4 linked regions of the Homo sapiens genome follow. The gene in region 1 interacts genetically with each later gene. Each region holds a gene or a part of one and is shown in the gene's direction. Other genes may lie near its edges. The genes, in order: FN3K, NPR1, MAP2K5 and AXL.

Evidence for each region.
Region 2: changes in FN3K (region 1) and NPR1 together harm fitness more than expected from each alone (negative genetic interaction), as found in Homo sapiens cells (one large-scale study listed by BioGRID).
Region 3: changes in FN3K (region 1) and MAP2K5 together harm fitness more than expected from each alone (negative genetic interaction), as found in Homo sapiens cells (one large-scale study listed by BioGRID).
Region 4: changes in FN3K (region 1) and AXL together harm fitness more than expected from each alone (negative genetic interaction), as found in Homo sapiens cells (one large-scale study listed by BioGRID).

Annotation. Positions count from the first base shown.
Region 1 is NC_000017.11:82,731,266-82,739,823, forward strand, and holds the start of FN3K (fructosamine-3-kinase), read left to right. Parts: upstream 1-4,349; 5' UTR 4,350-4,371; coding exon 4,372-4,512; intron 4,513-7,223; coding exon 7,224-7,375; intron 7,376-8,558. UniProt on the Homo sapiens protein: Fructosamine-3-kinase involved in protein deglycation by mediating phosphorylation of fructoselysine residues on glycated proteins, to generate fructoselysine-3 phosphate.
Region 2 is NC_000001.11:153,677,482-153,685,335, forward strand, and holds the start of NPR1 (atrial natriuretic peptide receptor 1 precursor), read left to right. Parts: upstream 1-1,206; 5' UTR 1,207-1,627; coding exon 1,628-2,348; intron 2,349-3,019; coding exon 3,020-3,219; intron 3,220-3,698; coding exon 3,699-3,812; intron 3,813-4,222; coding exon 4,223-4,358; intron 4,359-5,016; coding exon 5,017-5,108; intron 5,109-5,894; coding exon 5,895-6,030; intron 6,031-6,258; coding exon 6,259-6,343; intron 6,344-7,482; coding exon 7,483-7,603; intron 7,604-7,854. UniProt on the Homo sapiens protein: Receptor for the atrial natriuretic peptide NPPA/ANP and the brain natriuretic peptide NPPB/BNP which are potent vasoactive hormones playing a key role in cardiovascular homeostasis.
Region 3 is NC_000015.10:67,642,849-67,650,702, forward strand, and holds part of MAP2K5 (dual specificity mitogen-activated protein kinase kinase 5), read left to right. Parts: intron 1-3,382; coding exon 3,383-3,451; intron 3,452-3,539; coding exon 3,540-3,621; intron 3,622-7,854. UniProt on the Homo sapiens protein: Acts as a scaffold for the formation of a ternary MAP3K2/MAP3K3-MAP3K5-MAPK7 signaling complex.
Region 4 is NC_000019.10:41,254,652-41,261,527, forward strand, and holds part of AXL (tyrosine-protein kinase receptor UFO isoform 1 precursor), read left to right. Parts: intron 1-1,800; coding exon 1,801-1,960; intron 1,961-2,841; coding exon 2,842-2,978; intron 2,979-4,901; coding exon 4,902-5,253; 3' UTR 5,254-6,876. UniProt on the Homo sapiens protein: Receptor tyrosine kinase that transduces signals from the extracellular matrix into the cytoplasm by binding growth factor GAS6 and which is thus regulating many physiological processes including cell survival, cell proliferation, migration and differentiation.

The DNA of each region.
Region 1 (8,558 bases):
CGTGATCCACCCACCTCAGCCTCCCAAAGTGCTGGGATTACAGGCGTGAGCCACCACGCCCGGCCTGGAGACATGGTTTTAAGGGACAGCTGTGTGCTATGTCCTTGCAGGCTGCTGTGTTGACATCTGAAAGCACAGAGGGACTGGGCTCTGGACACAGCTCCGAGACTCCTCGGTCAAGGGAACAGCTGGAAGAGGTTTGTTCTCTTTGGGCAGCCGTGAACATCGCTAGGACCTCCGGGGAGGAAGTCCAGGGAAATGGTAGTTGCCCTGAGCTCCCATCCAGGACTCTCAGTTCTCATCTTTGGGATCTTGGGGGCAATGTGGCTCCACTTTTTATTTCTTACTGTAAGTGGGATTATATCAAAACACCTAATCTAACACAGTCAGAGCGTCAGCTTTTCCACAGAAGTGAATCTTTAGATACCTGAAGACAAGCCTTCTGTCCCAAAGCGTTTTACTTTTCATCCTTTTAATGAAAGTGCGCCTAAAGCGGCCAGGCGCAGTGGCTCACGCCTGTCATCCCAGCACTCTGGGAGGCCGAGGTGGGCGGATCACCTGAGGTCAGGAGTTCGAGACCAGCCTGGCAAACATGGCAAAACCCTGTCTCTACCATAAATATGAAAATTAACTGGGCGTGGTAACGTGCGCCTGCAATCTCAGCTACTCGGGAGGCTGAGGCAGGAGAATTGCTTGAACTCGGGAGGCGGAGGTTGCAGTGAGCCGAGATCGTGTCACTGCACTCCAACTTGGAGACAGGGCAAGACTCCATCTCGGGGTGGGGAAGACCTGTATCTTGGAAAGATGATGTAGGGGTGCACTGTAAGGGGTATATTGGAGGGGGAATTCCAGGCAGCAGGGAGAGGGCTGGCGGGGGCTTTCCTGTGAGTGGGTAAGCAGGACTGTGAGAAGGGCAAAGGCCCAGGAGCCATGGAGGGGCCAGGACAGGGTGGTGAGAGAGAGGGAGCAGTGCCACCGGCTTGTCCACGTATTTCACTGAAGCCTGTGCCACGTCTGCACATCCCACCTCCACCCATCCACGCCTCTGCCTGAACCACTCCATTAACCAGCTGGCCTCTGCTTGGGGTGGCCCAGGGGAGCCGAGAGGAGATGGGGAGGGTGGGTGAGGTTAGGATATCATTCTCAGACTTCCTTCATCAAGCCCACACCCCAGGCCTGGGTGGCGCCAGCTCTGTAGCCAGGCTCAGCTCTGTCCTGTGGTCTCCCCACACCCTGCCCATGTCTGTGCCAGGCCCCTTTCTTGGGTCCTCCTTGATTCCTCCAGCTTGAGGTCCACATCCCACCTTTACTCCGTCCACGCCTCTCCTCTGGGCTGATGGTAGGATCACAAGCATGGGTGGCCCCGACACCTGACCAGCACCGCAGACCAGGCCCTGTACTAAGACATCCAGGCAGATGGGGAAAAAGATGGGTGGTACCACTCCCAGAACGGGAAACCGGACAGAGGGCAGGTTCTGTTTTGTTTGTGACGGAGTCTTGTTCTGTCACCCAGGCTGGAATGCAGTGGCGTGATCTCGGCTCAGTACGACCTCCACTCCCAGGCTCAAGCAATTCTCCTGCCTCAGCGTCCCAAGTAGCTGGGATTACAGGTGTGTGCCACCATGCCCGACTAAAATTTTTTTGTATTTTTCGTAGAGATAGGGTTTCACCAAGTTGATCAGGCTGGTCTTGAACTCCTGACCTTGTGATCTACCCACCTCGGCCTCCCAAAGAGCTGGGATTACAGGCATGAGCCACTGCAACCAGCCGATACAGGTCGTTTTAAAAACAGTATTATTTGCACACCATACAATTTACTCTACTAATTCTCTAAGAAACTTGGGATCACTTAACTGCCCTGCCCTTGAATCTTCAACAGCTCTTAACCCCCCACATAGAGGACTTCCTAGCCTGGTGCCTGCATATCTGTTTCTTCATTCAGGCACCTCTTCTCACTGAGAGACCTGAGCACTCGTATGGTTCTCTGTGTGACGCCTAATATCTGACTGTAGACTCATGAGTTGTATGAAGAAAAATTACAAGGGGCTTTGAGGCAGTAACAGAGAGGACTGACTCTAGACCACAGTGTTGGAATTCCAAAAAAGAGAACCAAGAATACAGAGGGAGAACGCCATGAAGGGCTAAAAGCTGTCCCAGGATTGGAGGACCCACCAGTCCTGTTCAGGGGATGACAGGAGACTCACCCTGACACCTCCCTGGGGAATTTTTCACTGGTGTCACAGAGAAGACCCTAAAAGCCTGCAGAGATAGAACAGTTTCCACACAAAGAATAAGAACTGAAATGGCCATAAGCTTCTCAACATCAAAACTGGAGCTGGCAGCTTCTTGGTTCCTAAAGAACATGGTCTGATCTCCAAGCTGGAATTTGATACCCAGCCAAACTGTCAACTAGGAAGAAAGAAATTTACAGACGTACGAGAGCTCACACTGGCCTGTCAGGAACCTTCTGTCAAGATGCGATAGCAGGGTGGGCTTCAGATGAGAAAAAGCCAGGGACTGGCACATGCCCTTTCTGCAGACACCACAGTCATCCTCCTGTCCTACCTGCTGTTCTGCGGCAGCCCTGCCACTCCTGTCAAGAGGTGGCTGCTTGGCCGGGTGCCATGTGTAATCCCAGCACATTGGGAGGCTGAGGCAGGCGGATCACCTGAGGCCAGGAGTTTGAGACCATCCTGGCCAACATGGTGAAACCCCGTCTCTACTAAAAATACAAAAATTAGCGGGGCGTGGTGACGCGTGCCTGTAATCCCAGCTACTCAGGAAGCTGAGGTAGGAGAATCGCTTGAACCCGGGAGGTGGAGGTTGCAGTGAGCCGAGATTGCACTTCAGCCTGGGTGACAGAGCAAGACCCTGTTTCAAAAAAAAAAAAGAGGTGGCTGCGGATCCCCTTGCCTTGATTGCGGCTTTGGAGACCGATGGAAGGAGGTGGAAATGATGGTGTGTGGCTTCTGAGGCCAGGTCAGAAAAGGCCTTTGCTTCTGCCAGCTCTCTGGGAGCTCTGGCTCTCCCAGTGCTCACTCTTGGAACCTGGCCTCCATGTTCAGGGAAGCTCAGGCCACACCAGGAGGCCACATGGACATGTCCTGCTTGACAGTGACCGCTAAGCCCAGGTTCCAGTGATCCTGGCCGAGGTGCCAGATGTAGGAGTTAAGGAGCCTCCCGATGACCCCAGCCCAGCTGAGCAAGTGGGCAGGACCGCGGGGATAGGCAGCTCCCAAAGGCTCCCTCCCCGCGGCAGGACCCCTGCATCTCTGTGGGAAAAGACAATTGTTGGGGCCCTAAAAAAAACAGATTTATTGATTAAAACCTCATGCATGGCCGGGCGTGGTGGTTCACGGCTGTAATCCCAGCACTTTGGGAGGCTGAGGCACGCAGGTCACCTGGCCAACATGGGGAAACCCCATGTCTACTAAAACTACAAAATGTAGCTGGGCAGGCCGGGCCGGTGGCTTGACGCCTGTAATCCCAGCACTTTGGGAGGCCGAGCGGGTGGATCACGAGGTTAGGAGATTGAGACCATCCTGGCTCACAGGGTGAAACCCTGTCTCCACTAAAACATACAAAAATATTAGCCGGGCGTGGTGGCGGGCGCCTGTAGTCCCAGCTACTCGGGAGGCTGAGGCAGGAGAATGGCTTGAACCCGGGAGGCGGAGCTTGCAGTGAGCCGAGATCGCGCCACTGCACTGCAGCCTGGGAGACAGAGACTCCATCTCTTAAAAACACAAAAAACAAACAATAAAAAAACCTCACGTCAAATGACTTCAGCACGGACTGGGCTCAGGTGCGCACCTGCTCGTGTGCACGCGTGTGTACCCACGTGTATGCATGCATGGGCGCGCGTGGGCATTCCTGTGTCTCAAGTCCCTTTCCCAGGACATCCTGGAATCAGCAGCCCCACCCTGGGCCGGGTCAGCGCGTGCCATCGGAGCCCCCACGTCAGCCTCTCTCTCCGATCGGCACCTGGCGTCCCAGTGCGCAAGCCCCACGTCATCACGGGGGCCGCTGGGCCCGGCCTGGTCTGCAGTGTGGGAAGCCGGCCAGGCCTGTGACCAGCGCCCGGGCCGAGGGCCGGACCTGCGTCCGCTGCGGGGCAGGGATACCGGGTCCCTGCAGGGAGCTCAAGCCCCAGCGCGCCCGCGAAGAGCTGCGCGGACTCCCGGCTGCTTCCCCCGAATCCCGGGCGCAGGAAGCGCGAAGCCGGACGAACGCGGGGAGCGCGCGGCGAGCCCGCCTGAGGCCGCCCCTCCCGCCGCCCGGGGTCACGCGCCGCGCGCTCCCGCCCCGCCCCGCCCCGCAGCGCCTCAGCCGACAGGGGCTTCCGAGCGAGCAGAGTCCCGCGCCCCGCACTCCATGGAGCAGCTGCTGCGCGCCGAGCTGCGCACCGCGACCCTGCGGGCCTTCGGCGGCCCCGGCGCCGGCTGCATCAGCGAGGGCCGAGCCTACGACACGGACGCAGGCCCAGTGTTCGTCAAAGTCAACCGCAGGACGCAGGTGCTGGCCCGTGCGCAGGCGGGGGCTCTGCGGGTCTCTGCGGGGCCTGGGAAGGCGGAGGGGTCGGGGGCAGGCGCATTTCCTGGGGCTGGGCCTGGGGAGGGGTCAGCTTTGGCCCTTGGGAGGTGGCACCTGCTGGGTGAGCCCGGCTCAAGCGTTCTGTGAAGGTTTGTGTCTGCACGATCCGTGACCTTCCTTTGGCCTCCATGCGCAGCGCACAGGCTTCTAGGGGTGGTTTTAACTTTCCTATCCAGCAAGCGTCGGGGGATGTGAGGCTTGGGGTCCTTGGCTCAGCTCTGGGCCGCCCCTCTCAGCCCACCGTCCTCCTGGCAGTGGGAAAGAAGCAGAGACATGGCTGGGCCCCTGGCAGGGACCCCACGGGCCAGGCCAGCGTTCTCCTTCCCACAGGCCTTGTCTGTGTTTAGACCTGATTTCTATCTCCTGCTGAAAATAGTTCTGTTTAAGAATGTATGGAAGGCCGGGCGCGGTGGTTCACACCTGTAATCCCATCACTTTGGGAGGCCGAGGTGAGTGGATCCCTGAGGTCAGGAGTTCGAGACCATCCTGGCCAACATGGTGAAACCCCGTCTCTACCAAAAAATGCAATAATTAGCCGGATGTGGTGCCACTGGCCTGTAATCCCAGCTACTCGGGAGGCTGAGGCAGGAGAATTGCTTGAACCCAGGAGATGGAGGTTGCAGTGAGCCAAGATCGCGCCATTGCACTCCAGCCTGGGCAACAAGAGGGAAACTCCGTCTCAAAAAAAAAAAAGTATGGAAAATGTTAACGGAGGAAGTGGAGAAGGTTAGCTTCAGCCTTGAGAGCCGGCAGGTGGAGAAAGGCAGGCCTGGGTGCCCTCCCGGCCCGAGTGGGCTCAGAAGGCCCTGCACACTCTGGTGGGGGAGCTCTCTGAGGGGCAGCAGGGGTCCTGGTGGGGAGTGCTGGCAGGAGGAACACCAGAGCCATGCAGCCTGGGCGTGCGATCGGATCCTCCGGCATCACCTGCTCTGCCGGCTCAGAACCAAATCCCTCAAAGTGGGGAGTCCTACTCACAGGGAAGCAGTTTTTGGTTCAGGCTTCCCACGGGCTCTGGGAAACTTCCTCAGCTGGTCCTGAAAGCTCTGCAGGGTGAGACCCCTCCTTCCCTCCCACCCCCACGAGGGGCCGGCACATAGTAGCTGCTCAGTCCATGCATAAGAGCAGGTGATGCTGGGGCCCCTGGGGCTTAGCAGCCCCAAGGCCGGGAGTTCCTGGCCTGGTGCATGGGGGGCTCGCCCTGGAGCAGGGCTGGGGTGTGCCGGCCGCCCTCCCACCTGTGGACACTCACACCCACCCTCGGTGCAGGCTGGCCAGGGCTGCCAGGCTGGGGAGGCTGTGCCTGGGCTTTCCCTGGGGTACTTTGAAGGAAAGGGCGTTCTGTTCGTGTGCACCAGCAGATGCTTTGGTCTCATTCATGAGGTTTGATTTTTTTAAACATGCAGTCCTACACTTTGGGCGACTGAGGAAAGGTGGATCACTTGAGGCCAGGAGTTTGAGACCAGCCTGGCCATCATGGTGAAATTCCATCTCTTTTTTTTTGAGACGGACTCTTGCTCTGTCGCCCAGGCTGGATCTCGGCTCACTGCAAGCTGCGCCTCCCGGTTCACTCCATTCTCCTGCCTCAGCCTCCCGAGTAGCTGGGACTACAGGTGCCCGCCACCTTGCCTGGCTAATTTTTTGTATTTTTAGTAGAGACGAGGTTTCACCGTGTTAGCCAGGATGGTCTCAATCTCCTGACCTTGTGATCCGCCCACCCCGGCCTCCCAAAGTGCTGGGATTACAGGTGCGAGCCACCACGCACGGCGGTGGAACTCCATCTCTAGTAAAAATACAGAAAAACACAGCGGGGTGGGGTGGCCCACACCTGTAATCCCAGCTACTCAGGAGGCCGAAGCAGGAGAATCGTTTGAACCCAGGAGGCGGAGGCTGCCGTGAGCCGAGATCATGCCACTGCCCTCCAGCCTGGGTGACAGAGTGAGACCCTGTCTCAAAACAAACATGCAATTCTATAGGCCAAGGTATTCATGGACCACGTTCGTCAATGCATGTTTTCAACCAATGTGTACTGTACGTGAGGTGAGTGTTCACCTAACTGAAAACTGGAATGTTTGTGGGAATATTTCAGAAACAGGAAGGCCCAGGTCCCACGGGAGGCGTTGGGGGCCGGCCGGGTGTGCCGTGCCTTTTACCTTCCCAGCCCCTGCCCTGGACCTGAGGCCCCGCCTGATGGGCCCAGCCCTCTTCTTCCCTGCCTGACGTGTGTGCCCAAGTTAGCTCCAGTGAGGCCTCTGCTGTGGCTGCCCCACCCTAAGAGGCAGCAAGGAAGGTGGGTAGCCCGGGGGTCCAGCTCTGGACCTTGGTTCACTCACACCTCCCCACGCCCTCAGTGCTCCCGGGCACCCACACGTGGCCTGTGCATCCTCCTGTCACAGCAGCCTGCAGACCCCACACCCCTCACGGCCCAGGCTCAGCCTCAGCCTTGCAGCCTCTCGTCTCCGACGGGGGGCCCCTCTGCACCCTGCCCTCTGTGGTGGACGCCAGCTCCCAGCCAGAGCCAGCTATCAGTGAATGAAGGTCCTTGTGACTCCCACGTGGTAGCTTCTGTCAAGGGCCCAGTGGGCAGAGGCCCTGGCTGAGTCAACAAGGCTGACAAGGCTGTGTTCTGGATGCAGGCCCGGCAGATGTTTGAGGGGGAGGTGGCCAGCCTGGAGGCCCTCAGGAGCACGGGCCTGGTGCGGGTGCCGAGGCCCATGAAGGTCATCGACCTGCCGGGAGGTGGGGCCGCCTTTGTGATGGAGCATTTGAAGATGAAGAGCTTGAGCAGGTGAGTGTGTGTGAGACCCATATGCGCACATGTGTACAGGCAGAGAGAGACTCAGAGACAAACAGAGAGAGACAGAGAAAGGGATAGAGATGGGGAGGGAGACAGAAACAGGGAGAAGCCTGTGGCTGAGCCGTCCACACAACTGCCCGGTTATCAGAGGCAGGGCCAAGAGTTCCACCCTGCCATTCTTAATGGAGATAAAAAGTTACTGCTTTCTGGTATGTGACTGGTTTTCCTAGATAAGTTTGGCTGTAATGAGGCTGCATAAAATATATATATATACACATATATATATATATATATATATTTTTTTTTTTTTTGAAACACAGTCTCGCTCTGTTGCCCAGGCTAGAGTGCAGTGCAGTGGTGCAATCTCGGCTCACTGCAACTTCTGCCCCCAGGGTTCAAATGATTCTCCCACCTCAGCCTCCTGAGTAGCTGGGACTACAGGTGTCCACCACCACACCTGACTAATTTTTGTATTTTTAGTAGAGATGGGGTTTCACCATGTTGGCTGAGTTGGTCTCAAACTTCTGACTTCAAGTGATCCACCCACCTCGGCTTCCCAAAGTGCTGGGATAACAGGCCTGAGCCACCACACCTGCCCAAAATAAGTATATTTGAACCCATCATTTGCTTTGTACTTTATTTTTATTTTATTTTTCCAAGACAGAGTCTTGCTCTGTTTCCCAGGCTGGAGTGCAGTGATGCAATCTTGGCTCACTGCAAACTCCGCCTCCTGGGTTCAAGCAATTCTCTTGTCTCAGCCTCGCGAGTGGCTGGGATTACAGGCACCCCACCACCTCACGCAGCTATTTTTTTTTTTTTTTTTTTTGAGACGGAGTGTCGCTCTGTCACCCAGGCTGGAGTGCAGTGGCGCGATCTTGGCTCATTGCAAACTCTGCCTCCTGGGTTGACGCCATTCTCCTGCCTCAGCCTCCCGAGTAGAAGGGACTACAGGCGCCCGCCACCATGCCCGGCTAATTTTTTGTATTTTTAGTAGAGACGGGGTTTCACCATGTTAGCCAGGATGGTCTCGATCTGCTGACCTCGTGATCTACCCGCCTTGACCTCCCAAAGTGCTGGGATTATAGGCGTGAGCCACCGCGCCCGGCCTAATTTTTGTATTTTTAGTAGCATGTTAGCCAGACTGGTCTCAAACTCCTGACCTCAGTGATCCGCC
Region 2 (7,854 bases), on another chromosome or scaffold:
TGTACTTCAACATTCTGCTCTGTCTACACAGAATACCTTTCTCATCCTTCCATCCTCTTGAATTATTTCTTTTTTGGAGATTTTCTGGCCCCAATCCAAGCAGAATGAATAGCCCTCATCTGAGTCCTTTAGCAATTTATCCATGTCTCCCCTGTAGTGCTTAATGCATGTTGCATTACGGTTATTTGTCCCAAATGGAGCTCCTCAAAGGCACGGACTATATATATTCATCTTTATGCCCTCGGCACCTAGTGGGTGCTTAATGCACCGAAGGTTCTCTGGAAATGTTTGCTGACCTGAAGTTTGGTGATCTTATGTCCTGCTTAGGCGCAGCGTTGGAGAGGTTGGCGCTGCAATGCCGTCAATAACCCCCGATGACCATTAGAGGGCACACTGATTCCACAGCAGTCTGCACCGGGGGCCCAGCTGTCAAGTGCTCCAAAACCCACTCCCCAATTTACGCCTCCAGTGGTCATCTCCCACAGCCTTCATTTTAACAACCCTCAACACAAAACAGTCATTTTCTTGGGGCGTCCCTGAGGTGTGAACCTCCTCCCTCCCAGACACCCACCCACTCTCCCCATCTTCCTACAATTTGGGCGCTAAAGATTTAATTCCTCTCTGACACCAGATCATTTTTTCACAGCTAATCTGCACAGTCTGGAAGGTGGCAGGGAGGGAAAGAGAGGGAGATCATAGAAGGAATGGGTAACAAGCACTCTGGGCTCACCTTCAACTTTAACGGACTTTCCAGAAACCCGTCACCTTCCACCCCACACCCAAACACACACATCCACGCACTCACTCAGTTTCCTGCCAGGATCCCAAACCAGCACACCTTTCCCTCTTCCCCCGAGGAGACCAGGTAGGAGGCGAGGGAAAAGGTGGGGCGCAAGTGGGCCCCGGTTGCTTCCACACACACCCTCCGTTCAGCCGTCCTTTCCATCCCGGCGAGGGCGCACCTTCAGAGGGTCCTGTCCTCCAAAGAGGTAGGCGTGGGGCGGCCGAGACCGGGGAAGATGGTCCACGGGGAAGCGCGCGGGCTGGGCGGCGGGGAGGAAGGAGTTAAAGATCCTGGATTGGCTCTTCTGTCACTGAGTCTGGGAGGGGAAGCGGCTGGGAGGGAGGGTTCGGAGCTTGGCTCGGGTCCTCCACGGTTCCCTCCGGATAGCCGGAGACTTGGGCCGGCCGGACGCCCCTTCTGGCACACTCCCTGGGGCAGGCGCTCACGCACGCTACAAACACACACTCCTCTTTCCTCCCTCGCGCGCCCTCTCTCATCCTTCTTCACGAAGCGCTCACTCGCACCCTTTCTCTCTCTCTCTCTCTCTCTCTAACACGCACGCACACTCCCAGTTGTTCACACTCGGGTCCTCTCCAGCCCGACGTTCTCCTGGCACCCACCTGCTCCGCGGCGCCCTGCGCGCCCCCCTCGGTCGCGCCCCTTGCGCTCTCGGCCCAGACCGTCGCAGCTACAGGGGGCCTCGAGCCCCGGGGTGAGCGTCCCCGTCCCGCTCCTGCTCCTTCCCATAGGGACGCGCCTGATGCCTGGGACCGGCCGCTGAGCCCAAGGGGACCGAGGAGGCCATGGTAGGAGCGCTCGCCTGCTGCGGTGCCCGCTGAGGCCATGCCGGGGCCCCGGCGCCCCGCTGGCTCCCGCCTGCGCCTGCTCCTGCTCCTGCTGCTGCCGCCGCTGCTGCTGCTGCTCCGGGGCAGCCACGCGGGCAACCTGACGGTAGCCGTGGTACTGCCGCTGGCCAATACCTCGTACCCCTGGTCGTGGGCGCGCGTGGGACCCGCCGTGGAGCTGGCCCTGGCCCAGGTGAAGGCGCGCCCCGACTTGCTGCCGGGCTGGACGGTCCGCACGGTGCTGGGCAGCAGCGAAAACGCGCTGGGCGTCTGCTCCGACACCGCAGCGCCCCTGGCCGCGGTGGACCTCAAGTGGGAGCACAACCCCGCTGTGTTCCTGGGCCCCGGCTGCGTGTACGCCGCCGCCCCAGTGGGGCGCTTCACCGCGCACTGGCGGGTCCCGCTGCTGACCGCCGGCGCCCCGGCGCTGGGCTTCGGTGTCAAGGACGAGTATGCGCTGACCACCCGCGCGGGGCCCAGCTACGCCAAGCTGGGGGACTTCGTGGCGGCGCTGCACCGACGGCTGGGCTGGGAGCGCCAAGCGCTCATGCTCTACGCCTACCGGCCGGGTGACGAAGAGCACTGCTTCTTCCTCGTGGAGGGGCTGTTCATGCGGGTCCGCGACCGCCTCAATATTACGGTGGACCACCTGGAGTTCGCCGAGGACGACCTCAGCCACTACACCAGGCTGCTGCGGACCATGCCGCGCAAAGGCCGAGGTGAGACGCTGGCACACCCCGTCCCGCCGCTTAGCCGCAGGGCCTCCCCTCTGACCTGCCGGAGGCATCGGGACTTTCTCTCTCATCTGGGGGCACTCTTCTTTCTCCTCGCCGTTCTTCATTCTACTTTCAGCTCCCTGGCCCTTTCTACAGCTGAGTTTCTATTTCCCTCTCTTCTTCCGCCACCCCCACCACGTCTCTATCCTCTCATCTCCCCGACCCCCACTCATTCCCTCCCACCCTAGCACAGCTCGGTTCCGGTCCCTTTTTCCCTCCCACATTTTCTCTCTTCCCTATAGCCTTCTCCCTTCTTTCATCCTCTCCTCTCATTGCGCCTCATCCCCTCTCTTCTCCCCCTCCCTCTCCCTCCTCTCTCCCTCCTGGCCCCATCCTTCTCCACCTTCAGCTCCACTATCCCCCTCTCCCTACCCGTTCCTTCCTCCCTTCCGCCTCCCCCTTCCTCCTCCCGCCCACCGCCCCGCACCCGCCCGTTCCACCCTTCGACTTTCTCCTGCTGTGGCCTAGGCTGAGCCGGGAGTTACCACTTAACTCTCACTGGGTCTCTCCTGCACCCTATCTCTAAACTTCCTCCCTTGGGTGCCCCAGCTTTCCTACTCCTGTCTCTCCCGCAGTACCTAGGCTTCTCTCTCTGACTCTCCGTCTTTCTCCAGTTATCTACATCTGCAGCTCCCCTGATGCCTTCAGAACCCTCATGCTCCTGGCCCTGGAAGCTGGCTTGTGTGGGGAGGACTACGTTTTCTTCCACCTGGATATCTTTGGGCAAAGCCTGCAAGGTGGACAGGGCCCTGCTCCCCGCAGGCCCTGGGAGAGAGGGGATGGGCAGGATGTCAGTGCCCGCCAGGCCTTTCAGGTGAGTACCTAGGTTTGAAGCCCAGGCTGTCTCAGCTTGTGGCACATCATTTCTGGGCACTGTGTCCCTCAGCGTCTGAAAGAATTCCAGAAAAGAGGTTTTTGTCTGTTTGTTTCTTTATGCACTCCTGGTAACTCACAGAACAGAAAAGAGGTTGGTGATGCTCACTGGGAATTAGGCAATGAAGGGCAGGGGACTGCCCAGGGGCGCTTCGCCACCAGCAGGCTAAAAAGATAAGAAAATGGGCTTGAGGCGGGAGGAGGATAAAGTCCCACAGCCTGGACAGGACTTGGAGAAGGCATCCCATTGGATCCCCTGCTTTGGAATGGGCATCACTTCATGCAGGGCATAGGGTCCAGTTTGACCTTGAGCTAAGCAGAGACGCAGCTCTGGGAGGTGGGCTCCCAACTGTTGGGGCCCCACAGTACTAGGGAATAGTCAGCTCCCAACTCTCTGCTCTCCACTGACCCCTTTCTCAGGCTGCCAAAATCATTACATATAAAGACCCAGATAATCCCGAGTACTTGGAATTCCTGAAGCAGTTAAAACACCTGGCCTATGAGCAGTTCAACTTCACCATGGAGGATGGCCTGGTAAGAAGGGGTCCCGGGACCCTCCAGCGTGGACCTCCAGCCCCCACTCCATGACCCTCTGCCAGCCTCCATCCTTCCCTATTCCCAGTTCTCCCCTTCCTTCCCTCCCTTCCCATTGTTCCATGTTTCTCGTGATGATGGAGGAGGACACTGGCAAGTTCAGCCTCTGAAACTCAGGTCATCATCAGTAATATGGAGACGATACATCCTGCCCTGTCTACCTAGTAGGATTCAGGAAGTGATGCTAATCCAAAGGCATCGTTTAAATAGTAAAATCTCCCTGTGATATAGGGGTGTTATTTTCTCCCATCCTCTTCCAAAATCCCAGTGCCTCTTGTTCCCTTCCCCACAGCTCCCACCTCCATGCCCTTCATATGCCCACCCCAGCCGACCTCTGTTTGCCCCTACAGGTGAACACCATCCCAGCATCCTTCCACGACGGGCTCCTGCTCTATATCCAGGCAGTGACGGAGACTCTGGCACATGGGGGAACTGTTACTGATGGGGAGAACATCACTCAGCGGATGTGGAACCGAAGCTTTCAAGGTCAGGGCCTGGAGGTGGCTGGAATGGGCTGCCTTGGGGGATGAATCCCAGGTGCCCAGTGTCAAGCCATGAGAAGCCTATTGTCCTGCAGCAGTTACCTATGCACACCAGCCTTTTCCTCCACAGCTTTTTTCAGGCCCATCCCTCAGAAGTCCTACAAAGTGTCCAATCTCAATCATCCCTGCTGGGCACTGAGTTCTTTTACCTTTCTTTTTCTTTTTTCTTTTTTTTTTGAGATGGAGTCTCGCTCTGTCCCCAAGACTGGAGTGTGGTGGTGCAATCTCGGCTCACTTCAACCTCCGCCTCCCAGGTTCAAGCAATTCTCCTGCCTCAGCCTCCTGAGTAGCTGGGATTACAGGTGCCCTCCACCAACACTTGGCTAATTTTTTGTATTTTTTTTAGTAGAGACAGGGTTTCACCACGTTGGTCAGGCTGGTCTTGAACTCCTGACGTCAGGTGATCTGCCCGCCTCAGCCTCCCAAAGTGCTGGGATTACAAGCATGAGCCACAGTGCCCGGCCGTTTTACCATTTACTATCATTCTGTATACATGTATGTTTGGAAGGCAAGGCAAAAAAGATTAGAGGATGAAGAGATGAAGTGGGGCACCCCTGAACTTCTATTCTCTCAAACATAGTCATCTTCCCCCATGTCCTCAGGTGTGACAGGATACCTGAAAATTGATAGCAGTGGCGATCGGGAAACAGACTTCTCCCTCTGGGATATGGATCCCGAGAATGGTGCCTTCAGGGTAAGTTTGTGCACCCAGAAGACAGTGCCAATTCCAAATGACATCTCACCCTCCTACTTCCCCCCCACAGCCCTGCCAGGGCACCTGTTTATCCTGTAGCCATTCCACCATGCCTGGACACTTACAAGAGCCCTGGATAAAACAGACCCAGCTCCAGTCTGGGGAAGCCACCAGAATGATAGGGACTCACAGGCATCACACTTGGGGAGCCCCATGCCTGAGGAGGGAGCACAAGCCTGCCCTCGGGGAGCTCCGAAGGGAGGCAGGCAGGACCGCCTCCCAGCAGAGACAGGGCTGTGAAAGATGCACATTACACAGCTCTGCAAGCGAGCAGGGACAGGAAGGCGCTGAGGCCAATGGCCACAAGGGACAGGTCATCCAGAGAAGGCCTCCTGGAAGACGGGCACATGGACTGGGCCTGCGAATGTAGGCTAAGGTGAACATTACCTTCTCCTGTTTTCTACCAAGAAAATAAGTAGAGAAAAATCAATGCTTGGTTGGTACTTCAACCAAGATTATAAACTCCCTGAGTGTAGAGATCGGGTTCTAAATGGAGTTTTCTTTATAAACCCCTTGATAGTTTTCAGGTGTTTCCACTTGAGTACTATGTGTGTGGTATGAGGTCCTGTGTCCAGTTGCAGTGGGGACTTGGTAAGCAGGTGACAACCCAGATATATATGTAGGCTCTAGAAGCAGAGCTGGGGTAGGTGGGAGGTGAGACTGCTGCACTCACAGCATGCCTTCCCCGCAGGCCCTGGCCTAGCCACCACTCCTGCTCTCCCTTAGGTTGTACTGAACTACAATGGGACTTCCCAAGAGCTGGTGGCTGTGTCGGGGCGCAAACTGAACTGGCCCCTGGGGTACCCTCCTCCTGACATCCCCAAATGTGGCTTTGACAACGAAGACCCAGCATGCAACCAAGGTGACTGCCCCTTGCCTTCCAGGCCTCCATCCCAGAGATGCTGCATCCTTCCCCTAAGCACAGTCGAGTAGGTGCTCCTGTCCCATGCTGAGGGCTTTCTGGAGAATGACTCCTGCCTTTTTCTTCCCTTCATCCATCATCCCAGTTCACTGATGGACTATTAGAAAGTTCTTCCTCCTGCTGTCTAACCCAAATCTCTCTTGCTGCAATATGGACTCTCTCCTGCAGATCACCTTTCCACCCTGGAGGTGCTGGCTTTGGTGGGCAGCCTCTCCTTGCTCGGCATTCTGATTGTCTCCTTCTTCATATACAGGTGAGCTGTGATGTGGGGGGTTGAGTGAGGCTGGGGGACCCGGAGAACCAATAGCAGAGGAGGCGGTGGGGACCCAGAGGGAAGAGGGCAGGGGTGAAGGGGCACCAGGGGAAAACCAAGGGAGATGAGGAAGAAAGGAGGCTTAAAAGCCAGAGGAGAAAGAAAGAGAAGGGAATGGCAGGGCGAGGGGAGGAGACAAGGATAGGAATGGCCAAGGAGAGTCAGAAAGATCCAAGAAGCAGAGAAGTTGATGGGTGACATCATAGGGGCGTGGACTGGTTTTCCTTGCTACTCTTGCAGGCCAGATAGGAAGCAACTTTCTGAACCTTTGCAATCATGCCCATGTTAGCTGAGGAGGGTGAGCCCTGGTGTGTGCCAGGTGCCCAACCTAGAATGGAGAAGGGAGCTGAATGAGCCTTGTTCCTGCCGTCCAGTGGAGGCTAAAATGAAGTACAGGAGGAGTTAATGATATACAAAAGCAAGGAGGGAGGGGAGAAAAATCACTGCTGGTTGAGCATATAATGTGTGCCAGGCACTTCCACGTACACTATTTCTTTCTTTCTTTTTTTTTTTTTTTTTTTTTTTTGAGACGGAGTCTCGCTCTGTTGCCAGACTGGAGTGCAGTGGCATGATCTAGGCTCACTGCAACCTCCGCCTCCCAGTTTCAAGCAATTCTCCTGCCTCAGCCTCCCATGTAGCTGGGACTACAGGCACATGCCACCACGCTCAGCTAATTTTTGTATTTTTAGTAGAGACAGGGTTTCACCATGTTGGCCAGGATGGTCTCGATCTCTTGACCTCATGATCCACCCACCTTGGCCTCCCAAAGTGCTGGGATTACAGGCATGAGCCACTGTGCCTGGCCTCATGTTCACTATTTCTTTTCATTCTTATAATAGTTAAGAATGAAATAGATATTGCGGCCTCATTCCCAAGTAAGGACATTGAGGTGATTCCCCCAAGGTCCCCAGTAAGGCAGAATTTCCCCCAGCCATCCTGATTCTCAGTCCAGAGGATAGAATTCCCCCTCCATCTCTGAGTGCATGGTGTGGTCCCACGGCTCTGAGGAGGGGCTGCTGAGCACCCTGCCCTGGGTCAGCGGCTCAGCCACAGGCTCAGATGCAGCCTTCGTATCCCAGGAAGATGCAGCTGGAGAAGGAACTGGCCTCGGAGCTGTGGCGGGTGCGCTGGGAGGACGTTGAGCCCAGTAGCCTTGAGAGGCACCTGCGGAGTGCAGGCAGCCGGCTGACCCTGAGCGGGGTAAGAACGCTGGTGTTTGTGTTGGGGGGCAATAAAGGAGAGGTGGGTACAAGGGGCAGTGCCTGAGGGATAGGTAAGGGAGCAGGATTCTAGTCCCAGCTCTGCTTTCACTTGCTGTGTGACCTTGAGCGACTCATAGTCCCTCTCCGAGACTGTCTCAGATGATGATTACAGCAGCAGAGCCTCCCTCACAGGGCTCTTTTAAAGGTCAGAGGAGATAGTACCTGTGAAAACACTTTAAAAAAAAAAAA
Region 3 (7,854 bases), on another chromosome or scaffold:
TTTGGGGTTAATTCCAGGAGGGTGGCTAGCAATGTGGAATCATGTCATTTCTGGGTTGTTGGTGGCCTGGAGATGCAATATATCTTAATAGTCATATATCTTAGCACTGAATAAATGGCTTTTGAAACCTTAAATAAGTGATTCTCAACCTTACTTTGGGTTAGGAATTACCTGGGGAGCTTTACAAAATAACAAAGATGTGGGCCCAACCCAAGGGATTCTCATTCCATTGTTTTGGGGTAAAGCCTGCACCTTGGGATTTTTTTCAAGTGCCCTAGGTATTACGATATGAGGCCAGGGTTGAGAACCATTGATTTAAGGTTAATAATAACTTCATTCCTTTTATCAGACTTTTTTAGAGTGAGAGATTCCTGGTACTTGTCATCATAGTAGGAATAGCTGTAGTATTTTATGCTATAGGATTGAACTGATGCTAGATGAATTAATTTTGTTGGTAAGTTTTACACAAAAACAAAAATGTAAGTGAATATTGTTGGCAAGTGACTATTGATCAGGAGAAGTGTTTAAATGTTTCTTGGCAGTTTTGTATTACACTTACAGTCTAGTTTACTGAGATCTTATAAATAACCCCAAAGCAAACTCTTTTATTTTTTTTGAGACAGAGTCTCGCTCTGTTGCCCAGACTGGTGTGCAGTGGCGTGATCTCAGCTCACTGGAAGCTCCGCCTCCTGGGTTCACGCCATTCTTCTGCCTTAGCCTCCCAAGTAGCTGGGACTACAGGTGCCCGCCACCACACCTGGCTAATTTTTTGTATTTTTAGTAGAGATGGGGTTTCACCGTGTTAGCCAGGATGGTCTCGATCTCCTGACCTCGTGATCTGCCCGCCTCAGCCTCCTCCCAAAGTGCTGGGATTACAGGCGTGAGCCACCGCGCCCAGCTGCAAACTCTTGATAGAAACCACCTATGCCTTTTTTTTCCCCACCTTCCGCTTCCCCAAATCAACGCCTGGCCAATGTCAGGACTATAAAATGTACTTTAGAATTGTCCTTTTCTTTCCTTGCTCTATTAGCAGTTTATAATGCATAACTTATGCTTTTTTCTTCAGTATGATTGTATATATATTCTTCAGTTGTAATACAAAATGTAATTCAAAGTTGAATGCTACATAACTACACTATCATAGTAATTCTGAATGTTAAGTTTTTATCTAGAAATGTCTAGAGCCAGAAACTCTGCCACAAATCATAAAAATTGTTTTCCACCTATTCTATTCTCATCACTGCCTTTTAAAAGTAAAAAACAAGCTGGGCACGGTGGCTCACGCCTGTAATCCCAGCACTTTGGGAGGCTGAGGCAGGTGGATCACCTGAGGTCAGGAATTCGAGACCAGCCTGGCCAACATGGTGAAACCCTGTCTGCGCTAAAAATAGAAAAATCAACCGGGTGTGGTGGCAGGTGCCTGTAATCCCAGCTACTTGGGAGGCTGAGGCAGGAGAATGGCTTGAACCCGGGAGGCGGAGGTTGCAGTGAGCCAAGATCGCGCCACTACACTCCAGCCTGGGTGACAGGGCAGGACTCCATCTCTAAATAAATAAATAAATAAATAAAACAATTACTCTTGAATTAGTTTCACTGACATGCTTAGTAGAATTTGAACAGTATGGTCTTCTTTCTTAAAAAAATATGTGTTTGAAATAAACTAGAATTTATTCTAGATAAGTTTATAAATATTTTATATTTATGGGTTATAAATCACTGTGGGTAATATCACTCAGTGATTGATATTTTAAATAAACCATAAAGTACTGAAAAGCCCATGAGACTGAGTCCAGAGGAGGGGGTCCTACCATTCCCAGGCTCTGTGGCTCCCAGGAGGGAAACGTGGTTTCCTCCTCACTCAAAAGAAGGGAGTTAATGAAATAAGATTTCTTCAAGCTTTAACTTTCTGTAACAGGATTAGCAAAGAACATTACCTGACTGGAAAAAAAAAAGATGATATATTTTTAAAATTCCTTATTTCTCTCATAACTAAAAACCCCACTTAAAATGTTATTTTTGGCTGGGCATGGTGGCTTACGCTTGTAATCCCAGAACTTTGGGAGGCTGAGGTGAGCGGATCATTGAGGTCAGGAGTTCAAGACCAGCCTGGCCAACATGGTGAAACCCCATCTCTACTAAAAATACAAAAATTAGCCAGGTGTGGTGGCAGACACCTGTAATCCCAGCTACTCAGGAGGCTGAGACACGAGAATCGCTTGAGCCCATGAGACAGAGGTTGCTTGAACCCAGGAGACAGAGGTTGCAGTAAGCCGAGATCATGCCACTGCACTCCAGCCTGGGTAACAGAGCAAGACTCTGTCTCAAGAAAAGAAAAAAGTTATTTTTTGGCCAGTTGTGATGGCTCATGCCTGTAATCCCAGTGCTTTGGGAGGCTGAGGTGGGCAGATTGCTTGAGCTCAGGAGTTCGAGACCAGCCTGAGCAACATAGTGAAACCCCCATCTCTACCAAAAATGCAAAAAATTAGCTGGGTATGGTGGCACACCTGTGGTCCCAGCTACTTGGGTGGCTGAGGTGGGAGGTTTGTTTAAGTCTGGGAGGCAGAGATTGCAGTGAACCAAGATCGCCCCACTGCACTCCAGCCTGGGTGACAGCATGAGACTGTGTCTCTAAATAAATAAATAAAATGTCATTTTTATTCATCATCCTCTCTGCTTATTGCCTAGTGTCTGATCACAAACCACAAGATAGTTCTTTTTTTTAAGAGACAGGATTTCTCTCTTTCACCCAGGTGGGAGTGCAGAGGTGCAGTCATGGCTCACTTCAGCCTCAAATTCCTGAGCTCAAGTGATCCTCCCACCTCAGCCTCCCAAGTAGATTGGGACCACCCGATCATACTACACACAGGTAATTTTTTTTTTTTTTTGTAGAGATGGGTTCTCGCTATGGTGCTTAGACTGGCCATATACCCCTGGCCTTCAGGTACCCTTCCACCTCAGCCTCCCTTCCAGAGTGCTGGGATTACAGGTGTGTGCCACTGCACGTAGCCAACATAATTCTTTTATATTGGTTTGAGGGTCATTCCTATGCTCCTCTTTTGAAAATAGCCAATGTGGCTAAAATAGAGTGCATAAATTAAGAGTGTTATAACTTAACTGACTTTTAAAGCCATTACTATTGACCTTTGAGACCTGGCTTTTTTCTTTGGTCCCATCAATCACTTCTGTACCACCTCCCCCAGTATAGAAGGACAAAAGGTTAGACAGATGCAGATACAGCTTGTATTACTGGGAATTATAGTGGTAAGAAGAAGGAGGTGGGGAAGAATAAAGGAACTACCATGTTTTTAGTTCTTATATTTCATAGTGATTATAACTAATATAATTAGAAGATTAAAAAATATTAATACCTTTCTATATTTAGGTCATACTACTAGATATTACACTGGAACTTCAGAAGCAAATTATGTCTGAATTGGAAATTCTTTATAAGGTAATTTTTTCATAATTTTTATTTGTAAAGCATGCCTATGGTATTGACTTGCAGGTTTATAACTACTTTTGTCTTATTTTTGTTACAGTGCGATTCATCATATATCATTGGATTTTATGGAGCATTTTTTGTAGAAAACAGGATTTCAATATGTACAGAATTCATGGATGGTGAGTTTTCCCTTTTATAATACTTTTAAAATGATTTTTAGAGTATATAGTGCTTTAAAACCTGGTTTTGATATAGATATCAAATAGAATTAAAGATAATAAAATATGCTAATAATTACCTCATTTATACTCTAAGATTATTTCAGTGTTAGGGGTTCCTGGGGTTAAATATTTATAGCCGAACTGTAATTTTAAGAATTGAACTTCACTTTTATTGAAAATTTAAATAGAACAGATTAAATGCTAGTCTAATTGGTGGTTTGATATTTGATTCTTTTGCACAATCTGTCTTTACTTGCAAAACAGATGTTCTGTTCTTTTAATGTTTCAATAGCCAAAACAGATTTTCTTTTAAAGAAATCTATTAACCCAATGTCCTGTGTCTTTCAGAAAGAAATCGGTTCTTAATTGCAAGATAAGAAATTGTTTTTCAACACAGCTGTTTAGCCAAGATGTGTTTAATTTTCTTTGGACTTTAGCCCTTTCCTTCCCTCTCTATTTTTTTATTCATTTCTATTTTGGTAGTTCTTTCTTGACCTGAATATTACGGCAAAATACAGATTTCTAGGGACATATCAGTGAAATGATGTCATCATTATTATTATTTACCAATTTTAAATCTAAGCAGTCTTTAAATTTTACATATTCAGTTTTCCATAGTCTAGTCCATTAAAACACAACTTAAGAAAATATTGTTAGTTCCTTGTGGAGATTCTCAGTACATTACTAAAGCAATTAGTTTGTGCCCTGCAAAACTTTAATGAGCCAACATTGGTACCTTGATACTGTCATAAGGTGTACAACATGCTCTAAATTAGTTATAGTAGAATGTCAAAAATTAAAAATCTTACAGCCATATAGGTAAGTATGGTAACTGTGGAGACTGACCAGAAAAAGTGGATTCATTGAGCCAGTACATGTTACTGTGTTGTAACTTTTATCATTCTTTCTTTGAAGTCTTCAATTTTTCAGTTCTACTCAAACATTTTTGTTGAAACAGGGCACGGTGGTTCACGCATGTAATCCCAGCACTTTGGGAGACTAAGGTGGGAAGATTGCTTGAGCCCAGGAGTTTGAGACCAGCATAAGCAATATAGTGAGATCTCATCTTTACAAAAAAATTTTTAAAAATATGGCCGGGCACGGTGGCTTACTCCTGTAATCCTAGCACTTTGGGAGGCCGAGGCAAGCGGAGTTTGAGACCAGCCTAACCAACATGGCGAAAACCCGTCTCTATAGAAAATACAAAAATTAGCCAGGTGTGGTAGCGCATACCTGTAGTCTCAGCTACTTGGGAGGCTGAGACTGAGAATTGCTTGAACCTGGGAGGTGGAGGTTGCAGTGAACCAAGATCGCGCCACTGCACTCCACCCTGGGTGACAAAGTGAGACTCTGTCTTAAAAAAAATAAAAAAAGGAAAATTAGCTAAGCATGGTGGTACGGGCCTGTAGTCTCAGTTACTCTGGGGGCTGAGGTGGGAGGATTGCTTGAGCCCAGGAGATTAAGCCTGTAGTGAGCTGTGATCGTGCCACTGCACTCCAGTCTAGGCAACAGAGTGAGACCCTGTATCAAAAAACAAATAAATTAAAATTTTTTATTGAAATATAACTCAGATACCATAAAATTCACCCTTTAAAAGTGTACAATTCCATGGTTTTTGATATACTCACAAGGTTGTGTAGTCATCACCACTGTATAATTCCAAAACACTTTTTACCACCCCCAGAAAGAGACTTCCTACCTATTAGTACTCACTCTCTACTTTCTCTTTCCTCAAGTCCTTGGCAACCACTGATTTATCTTCTGTCTCTATGGATTTACCTATTCTGGACATTCCATATAAATGGAATCTGATAATATATGGCCTTTGTGTCTGGCTTCCTTTACTTAGTATAATGTTTTCAGTGTTCATCCATACTATTGCATATATGAGAACTTCATTCCTTTTTATTGCTGAATAACATTTCGTTGTATGGCTATACTACATTTTGTTTATTCTTTCATTAGTTGATGGACATTTGGGATAGTTCTACTTTATGCATAATTATGAATAATGCTACTCTATATATTTGTGTACAAGTTTTTGTGTGGACATACGTTTTCAGTTCTTTTTTTTTTTTTGAAACAGAGTCTCGCTCTGTCGCCTAGGCTGGAGTGCAGTGGGGTGATCTCGGCTCACTGCAACCTCCACTGCAACCTCCACCTCCTGGGTTCAAGCGATTCTCCTGCCTCAGCCTCCCGAGTAGCTGGGACTACAGGCGCGTGCCACCATGCCCAGCTAAGTTTTGTATTTTCAGTAGAGACAGAGTTTCACTGTGTTAGGATGGTCTCGATCTCCTGACCTCGTGATCTCCCCGCCTTGGCCTCCCGAGGTGCTGGGATTACAGGTGTGAGCCACTGCACCCGGTCAGTGTTTTCAGTTCTTTTGGGTATATACCTAGGAGTAAAGTTGCTAGGTCATATGGTAGCTTTATGTTTAACTTTTTAATAAACTACCAAACTTTTCCAATCTGTTTTACACCACTTTGCATTCATACCAGCACTGTATAAGGTTCCATTTTCTTCATATTTTTGCCAATACTTGTCATTTTGTGTCTTTTTAAAATTGTGGGCTTGTAGTGTGACATGGTATCCCATTTTGGTTTTGATTTAGGTTTCTCTAATGACTAATGATGTTGAGCATCTTTTCATGTGCTTATTGGCCATTTGTATACCTTCTTTTGAGAAATATGTTTTCAAATCCTTTGTCTATTTTTTAAATGAGTTATTGGGCTTTTATTGTTGAGTTGTGAGAATTCTTTATGTATTCTAATACTTGGCTCTTATCAGATATGGGATTTCCAAATATTTTCACTTATTGTTTATCTTTTCACTTTCTTTTTTCTTTTCTTTTCCTTTTTTTGAGCTGCGGTCTCATTATGTTGCCCAGGCTAGTTTTGAACTCCTGGGCTCAAGTGATCCTCCCACCTCAGCCTCAAGTTTTATTGTTTTAGCTTTTATATTTAAGCCTTTGATTTATTTTTGAGTTAATTTTTATATATGGTATGAGATAGGGGTCCAAATTTATTCGTTTGCATGTAGATATACATTTGTTCCAGTACCGTTTGTTAAAGACTGTTTTTCCCATTGAATTTTCTTGTTATACTTGTTGAAAATTGACCATAACATATATTTCTGTACTTTCAGATCAATGCGTATACATCTCGCATTGATCTAGTTGTCTATCTTTGTACCAGTACCACACCATATTTGATTACTTGTACTTGAAAACTCTGGATTATTATAGTTTTTAAGTTTCAAATCGAGAAGTGTAAGTGCTCCAACTTTGTTCTTTTCAAGATTGTTTTGGCCATTTTGAATACCTAGCATTTTCATTTGAATTTTAGAATCAGCTTGGCAATTTCTCCAAAAAAATCCAGCTGGGATTTTGATAAGAATTGAATTGAATTTTTAGATCAACTTGGGGAATATTGCTGTCTTAACATTATTTAATCTTCCACTCCGTGAACACAGATGTCTTTCAACTTACTTAGGTCTTCTTTAATTGTTTTTCAATGATTTAAAAATAATTTTTAGGGTATAAGTGGTAACTATTTGTTAAATTTGCTTCTAAGTTTTTTTAATGCTGTTTTTCTTAATTTCATTTTTGGATTGTTCATTGCCAGTGTATAGAACTGTAATTGATTTTTGTATATTGATCTTGTATTCTGCAACCTTGCTGAACTTGTTTACTAATGTTAATAGCTTTTTGTGGATTCCTTAGGGTTCTCTATATACAAGATAATGCCATCTGCAAATAGAGGTAGTTTTAGTGCTTTCTTTTCAATTCTGAATGTCTTTTATTTCCTTTTCTTGCTTAATTACCCTGGCTAGAACCTTCAGTACAATGTTGAATAGACTGATGAGAGCAGACATCCTTCTCTTGTTCCTGACCTTAGAGGGAGAGCTTTCAGTCTTTCACCATTAAATATGATGTTAGCCATGGGTTTGGAATAGTTGTCCTTTGTCAGGTTGAGGAAATTCCTTTCTATTTCTAGTTTGTTGAGTTTTTTTTTTTTTTAATTATGAAAGGGTATTAAATTTTGTCAAATGCCTGTTTTATATCTATTGAAATAATCGTGCATATTTGGTCCTTTATTCTATTAATATATGGTATACTATATTAATTGATTTTTGCAAAATGAACCAGTCTTGCAGTGTTGGAATTATTCCACTTAGTCATGATGTGTAATT
Region 4 (6,876 bases), on another chromosome or scaffold:
CTCACATCTATAATCCCAGCCCTTTGGGAGGCTGAGGCAGGAGGATCACTTGTACCCAGGAGTTCAAGACCAGCCTGGGCAACATAGTGAATCCTGTCTTTACAAAAAATAAATTAGCTGGGCATGGTGGTGTATACCTGTGGTTCCAGCTACTTGGGAGGCTGAGGTGGAAGGATTGCTAGAGCCCAGGAGGTTGAGGCTGAAGTCAGCCATGATGGTATCACTTCACTACTGCCTGGGCAACAGGGCAAGATCCCATCTAAAAAAAAATTGATGTATATTTTACATACACTAAAATATACACATGCAGCTCAGCTCGATGAATTTTTATGGGTATAGACCCATGTAACCACTAGATGAAGGTAAAGAATATTTCTTAGCCCCAGCAGGCTCCTTCATGCCTCTTCGTCTTCCCAATCACTACCGCCAAGTGGTACCCACTATCCTGACTTCTCAGTGCTAGTTTAGCCTGTTCTGAAAAGTCATACAAATGGGATCATGCAGTTTGTACTGCTTTGTGTCTGGCTTCTATGGCTCAGCATGATGTTTTTGAGATGGATCTGTGTAGGGGTAGTTTGCTCTTTTTCTTTGCTGTGTGGTATGGTATTCCATCATATGAATGTCCTGTGGATTTTCTTTTCTTTTTTTCTCTTTCTTTCTTTTTCTTTCTTTTCTTTCTTTTTCTCTCTGTCCTTTCTTCTTTCTTTTCTTTCTCTTTCTCTCTCTTTATCTCCTTCCTTCCTTCCTTCCCTCCCTCCCTCTCTCTTTCCCTTTCTTTCCCTTTTTTTCTTTCTTTTCTTTTTTGTTTTGACAGAGTCTTACTCTGTCCTTTAGGGTGGGGTGCAGTGGCATGATCATAGCTCACTGTAGCCTCCAACTCCTGGCTCAAGCTATCCTTCTGCCTCAGCCTCCTAAGTAGCTGGAACTACAGACATGTGCCACCATGTCCAGCTAATTTTTAAATTTTTTTGTAGAGACAGGGTCTTGCTTTGTTTTCCAGGCTGGTCTTGAACTCCTAGCCTCAAGTGATCCTCCCACCTTGGCCTCCCAAGGTGCTGAAATTACAGGCTTGAGCCACTGTGCCTGTTTTTTTTTTTGTTTGTTTTTGAGACGGAGTCTCACTCACTCTGTTGCCCAGGCTGGAGTGCAGTGGCGTGATCTCAGCTCACTGCAACCTCCGCCTACTGGGTTCAACTGATTCTCTTGCTTCAGCCTCCCAGGTAGCTGGGATTTCAGATGTGCACCAACACACCTGGCTAATTTTTGTACTTTTAGTAGAGACAGAGTTTCACCACATTGGCCAGGCTGGTCTCAAACTCCTGACCTCAAGTGATCCACCTGCCTTGGCCTCCCAGAGTGCTGGGATTACAGGCGCCAGCCACCATGCCCAGCCATGTTCTGTTTCTTAATCTGGGTGCTGGTTACATGGGTGTGTGTGTGTGTGTGTGTGAAAATTCAGTGAGCTGCTTACTTATGACTTGTGCACATTTCCATATGTACAGTATACTTCAAGAAAAAAAAATTTCATCAAGGAATCAAACCCAAGGAAGGACCTTAGAATCTAGCAAAGAGCCAAAATTGGGAAGTCCTGAGGAAGCCCTTTGTCCCATCCTCACTTGACAGAGTGAACAAGAAGTAAAGCAGTTCCCTTCTGGACTGGGATGAAGGTTTAGGAGACAGATCCCCACCCGCAGCCAGGACAGTGAGGGGAGGAGGTGCAGATGTGTCTGAGAGCCAGGGCAGGCTTCCTGGTGGAGGTGACTGATGCCCTGACCCTGTTCCTTTCCCCAATCCAAACAGGCTGAATGAGAACATGTCCGTGTGTGTGGCGGACTTCGGGCTCTCCAAGAAGATCTACAATGGGGACTACTACCGCCAGGGACGTATCGCCAAGATGCCAGTCAAGTGGATTGCCATTGAGAGTCTAGCTGACCGTGTCTACACCAGCAAGAGCGATGTGGTAGGTGCACTCCCGCCAAGAGTGGGGAACCATGGGAGGGCATGGCCTGACCATCACACACTATGCCTGGGTGGCTGTGGATGCAAGGGTCACAGGGACATGTGGGCTTCCCTTTGCAGGGGCTTGTCCACATGGGCTGGGCATGTCTTGGGGTATGGTGGGCATCTCTGAATAGTGGTGTGTACATGCCCAGGATAAATACAGGCCCACGTGTGCATGGTAGCAATGTAGACAGTTTAGGTTAGAAGAAGCTGCAGTGATTATGCGTGCATGTGCGCACACTCATAGAATGTGGACAGCCAGGGTGTGCAGAGTGGCACATGAGCTCATGTGTCCATGAAGTGTGTATATGTGTGTGATGGTGAGCATGTGTATGCATCCACAAAAGTTACTTATTCATGTGTATACCCGTGTCAAGTATTTTTTATATATATATATTTTTCTTTTTTTGAGATGGAGTCTCGCACTGTCACCCAGGCTGCAGTGCAATGGCATGATCTCAGCTCACTGCAGACTCTGCCTCCCGGGTTCAAGCAATTCTCCTGCCTCAGTCTCCCGAGTAGCTGGGATTACAGGCGCCCACCACCATGCCTAGCTAATTTTTGTATTTTTAGTAGAGACGGGGTTTCACTATATTGGCCAGGCTGGTCTCAAACTCCTGACCTCAGGCAGTCCGCCCACCTCAGCCTCCCAAAGTGCTGGGATTACAGGCATCAGCCACCGCACCCGGCTAAAGTATTATGTTTCTATGAATACTTGTGATGCTCCCAGAGGATGGTTGTGAACATGTGTACATAAGTGTGGGTGTACCCATGAACCTGGGTATTGGTGCGGGTGATTCTGTGCAGGAGAGACTGTCTAATTCCCTCTGCCCCTCACAGTGGTCCTTCGGGGTGACAATGTGGGAGATTGCCACAAGAGGCCAAACCCCATATCCGGGCGTGGAGAACAGCGAGATTTATGACTATCTGCGCCAGGGAAATCGCCTGAAGCAGCCTGCGGACTGTCTGGATGGACTGTGAGGACCCTTAGGTCTCCCCCAACCCAGAATTCATTCCAAACCCCTGACTACCCCCAGATGGCCCTCACAGGTCCAGGACTCTCTATAACCCAGACAGAATCCCTGAGAATGCTGAGTGACCCACTTGCCCCTCACCAATGCTCTGAGTAGGGCCATCACTAACCAGTGGGGTGCAAATCAGCTAAAGGCACCCTTTCCTCCTTTGTCTGTGTGGGCTGAATCAGCCCCCTGGCTCCCCACCCCCAAGCCAGGTATCCTTGGGTAGTGAATAACAGCACAGTCTTACCTGGCGGCCCTGCCTTTGGGACATGCACTCCCAGAGACTTCTCATTCCAGACTCCTGAGCACACCATGCTTCCCCGACATGCTCCTCAACACCTGAGACTCTCTGCAAAACCCTTCAGTTTGTTTTATTGGCCTTCTCCAGACTCAGGTCTCCTCTGAGATATTTGCAGGATCCTTCAGGGAATGCTTACCAAACTTTGCAATATTGGAGTATGCGGAGAAGGCCGTGACATTTAGCTAGCACTTTGAGGGTAAAGAGAGGATGACTTTGGGTCAGGAGGAGACAGCCTGGGGCGTCAGACTCCTCAGTCCACCTTGGGTACTCCAAGAGCTGAGACGAGTAAAAATAACAGCTAACATTTTCATATAACTGACTAGAAGGCACTGTTTTAGGTGCCTGGCATGTGTCAAATCATTTGGTCCTTACCACAGCCATGTGATGTAGATAGGTATCATTATGATTCCCATTCTGCAGATAAGAAAACCCAGTCCTACAGGGAGGGTAATTTATTTTTATTTATTGACTTGAGTCTCGCTCTGTCGCCCAGGCTGGAGCACAATGGCTCCATCTCGGCTCACTGCAACCTCCCAGGTTCTAGCGATTCTCTTGCCTCAGCCTCCCAAGTAGCTGGGACTACAGGCGTGTGCCACCATGCCCAGCTAATTTTTTTTGTATTTTTAGTAGAGATGGGGTTTCACCACCTTAGCCAGGATGGTCTTGATATCGTGACCTCATGATCCACCCGTCCCAGCCTCCCAAAGTGCTGGGATTATAGGCATGAGCCTCCACGCCCAGTCTGGGAGGGTGATTTATTTGCCAAAGATTGCACAGCTGGTGTGTTTGTTATCTATATCCCCAAATCAAGTAGTTTAAAACAACAAACGTTTATTATCTCACACAATTTCTGAAAGTTGGATACTGGGAACAGCTTAGCAGGGTGATTTTGGTTCAGGATCTCTAATGAAGTTACAAAGATATCACTGGGGGCTGCAGTCATCTGAAGGTTGGGACTGGAGGATTGCTTTCAAGGTGGCTTACTCACATGGCTGTAGCAGGAGGCTTCAGTTCGTTGCCATGTGGACCCCTTTGTGGCACTGCTTGAGCTTACTCACAACATGGCAACCCAGGAGAAAGTGCGAGGAAGCCACATGCCTTTTATGACCTAGTCTCAGAAGTCACACACACCATCACTTCTGCCAAATCAGAAGCAAGTCACTAAGTCCTGCCCATGCTCAAGAGGAGAGGATTTATTCTCCGTCTTTTGCAGGGAGGAGGGTCAAAGAATTTATGGACCTATTTTAAACCAGCACAGCTTGTAAGTGGCATAGCCAGGCTTTGATGCAAGTCTGTTCTGGGGAGCTGGAAGGTCTGTTCTAGCAAACCCTCATCAGAATACTACTCCATATACAGACAGGTTTCCCGAGACCCTTCCCAGCTCCTGAGTCTCCCAGGACCCAACTCAGAAATTCTTGGGAATTCCCAAATCCCCATAGATGGCCTCAAACTGCTGAGGCTCCCTATAACCCTCTAAAATGCCCCCAGTCCCCTGAGTGTCCTAAAATGTCCCCAGGCTTCCAGAATGCACCCCTTCTGAGTCCCTGCTCAATCTCCCACCCCTCATTTTGCTGCCCTAGGTATGCCTTGATGTCGCGGTGCTGGGAGCTAAATCCCCAGGACCGGCCAAGTTTTACAGAGCTGCGGGAAGATTTGGAGAACACACTGAAGGCCTTGCCTCCTGCCCAGGAGCCTGACGAAATCCTCTATGTCAACATGGATGAGGGTGGAGGTTATCCTGAACCCCCTGGAGCTGCAGGAGGAGCTGACCCCCCAACCCAGCCAGACCCTAAGGATTCCTGTAGCTGCCTCACTGCGGCTGAGGTCCATCCTGCTGGACGCTATGTCCTCTGCCCTTCCACAACCCCTAGCCCCGCTCAGCCTGCTGATAGGGGCTCCCCAGCAGCCCCAGGGCAGGAGGATGGTGCCTGAGACAACCCTCCACCTGGTACTCCCTCTCAGGATCCAAGCTAAGCACTGCCACTGGGGAAAACTCCACCTTCCCACTTTCCCACCCCACGCCTTATCCCCACTTGCAGCCCTGTCTTCCTACCTATCCCACCTCCATCCCAGACAGGTCCCTCCCCTTCTCTGTGCAGTAGCATCACCTTGAAAGCAGTAGCATCACCATCTGTAAAAGGAAGGGGTTGGATTGCAATATCTGAAGCCCTCCCAGGTGTTAACATTCCAAGACTCTAGAGTCCAAGGTTTAAAGAGTCTAGATTCAAAGGTTCTAGGTTTCAAAGATGCTGTGAGTCTTTGGTTCTAAGGACCTGAAATTCCAAAGTCTCTAATTCTATTAAAGTGCTAAGGTTCTAAGGCCTACTTTTTTTTTTTTTTTTTTTTTTTTTTTTTTTGCGATAGAGTCTCACTGTGTCACCCAGGCTGGAGTGCAGTGGTGCAATCTCGCCTCACTGCAACCTTCACCTACCGAGTTCAAGTGATTTTCCTGCCTTGGCCTCCCAAGTAGCTGGGATTACAGGTGTGTGCCACCACACCCGGCTAATTTTTATATTTTTAGTAGAGACAGGGTTTCACCATGTTGGCCAGGCTGGTCTAAAACTCCTGACCTCAAGTGATCTGCCCACCTCAGCCTCCCAAAGTGCTGAGATTACAGGCATGAGCCACTGCACTCAACCTTAAGACCTACTGTTCTAAAGCTCTGACATTATGTGGTTTTAGATTTTCTGGTTCTAACATTTTTGATAAAGCCTCAAGGTTTTAGGTTCTAAAGTTCTAAGATTCTGATTTTAGGAGCTAAGGCTCTATGAGTCTAGATGTTTATTCTTCTAGAGTTCAGAGTCCTTAAAATGTAAGATTATAGATTCTAAAGATTCTATAGTTCTAGACATGGAGGTTCTAAGGCCTAGGATTCTAAAATGTGATGTTCTAAGGCTCTGAGAGTCTAGATTCTCTGGCTGTAAGGCTCTAGATCATAAGGCTTCAAAATGTTATCTTCTCAAGTTCTAAGATTCTAATGATGATCAATTATAGTTTCTGAGGCTTTATGATAATAGATTCTCTTGTATAAGATCCTAGATCCTAAGGGTCGAAAGCTCTAGAATCTGCAATTCAAAAGTTCCAAGAGTCTAAAGATGGAGTTTCTAAGGTCCGGTGTTCTAAGATGTGATATTCTAAGACTTACTCTAAGATCTTAGATTCTCTGTGTCTAAGATTCTAGATCAGATGCTCCAAGATTCTAGATGATTAAATAAGATTCTAACGGTCTGTTCTGTTTCAAGGCACTCTAGATTCCATTGGTCCAAGATTCCGGATCCTAAGCATCTAAGTTATAAGACTCTCACACTCAGTTGTGACTAACTAGACACCAAAGTTCTAATAATTTCTAATGTTGGACACCTTTAGGTTCTTTGCTGCATTCTGCCTCTCTAGGACCATGGTTAAGAGTCCAAGAATCCACATTTCTAAAATCTTATAGTTCTAGGCACTGTAGTTCTAAGACTCAAATGTTCTAAGTTTCTAAGATTCTAAAGGTCCACAGGTCTAGACTATTAGGTGCAATTTCAAGGTTCTAACCCTATACTGTAGTATTCT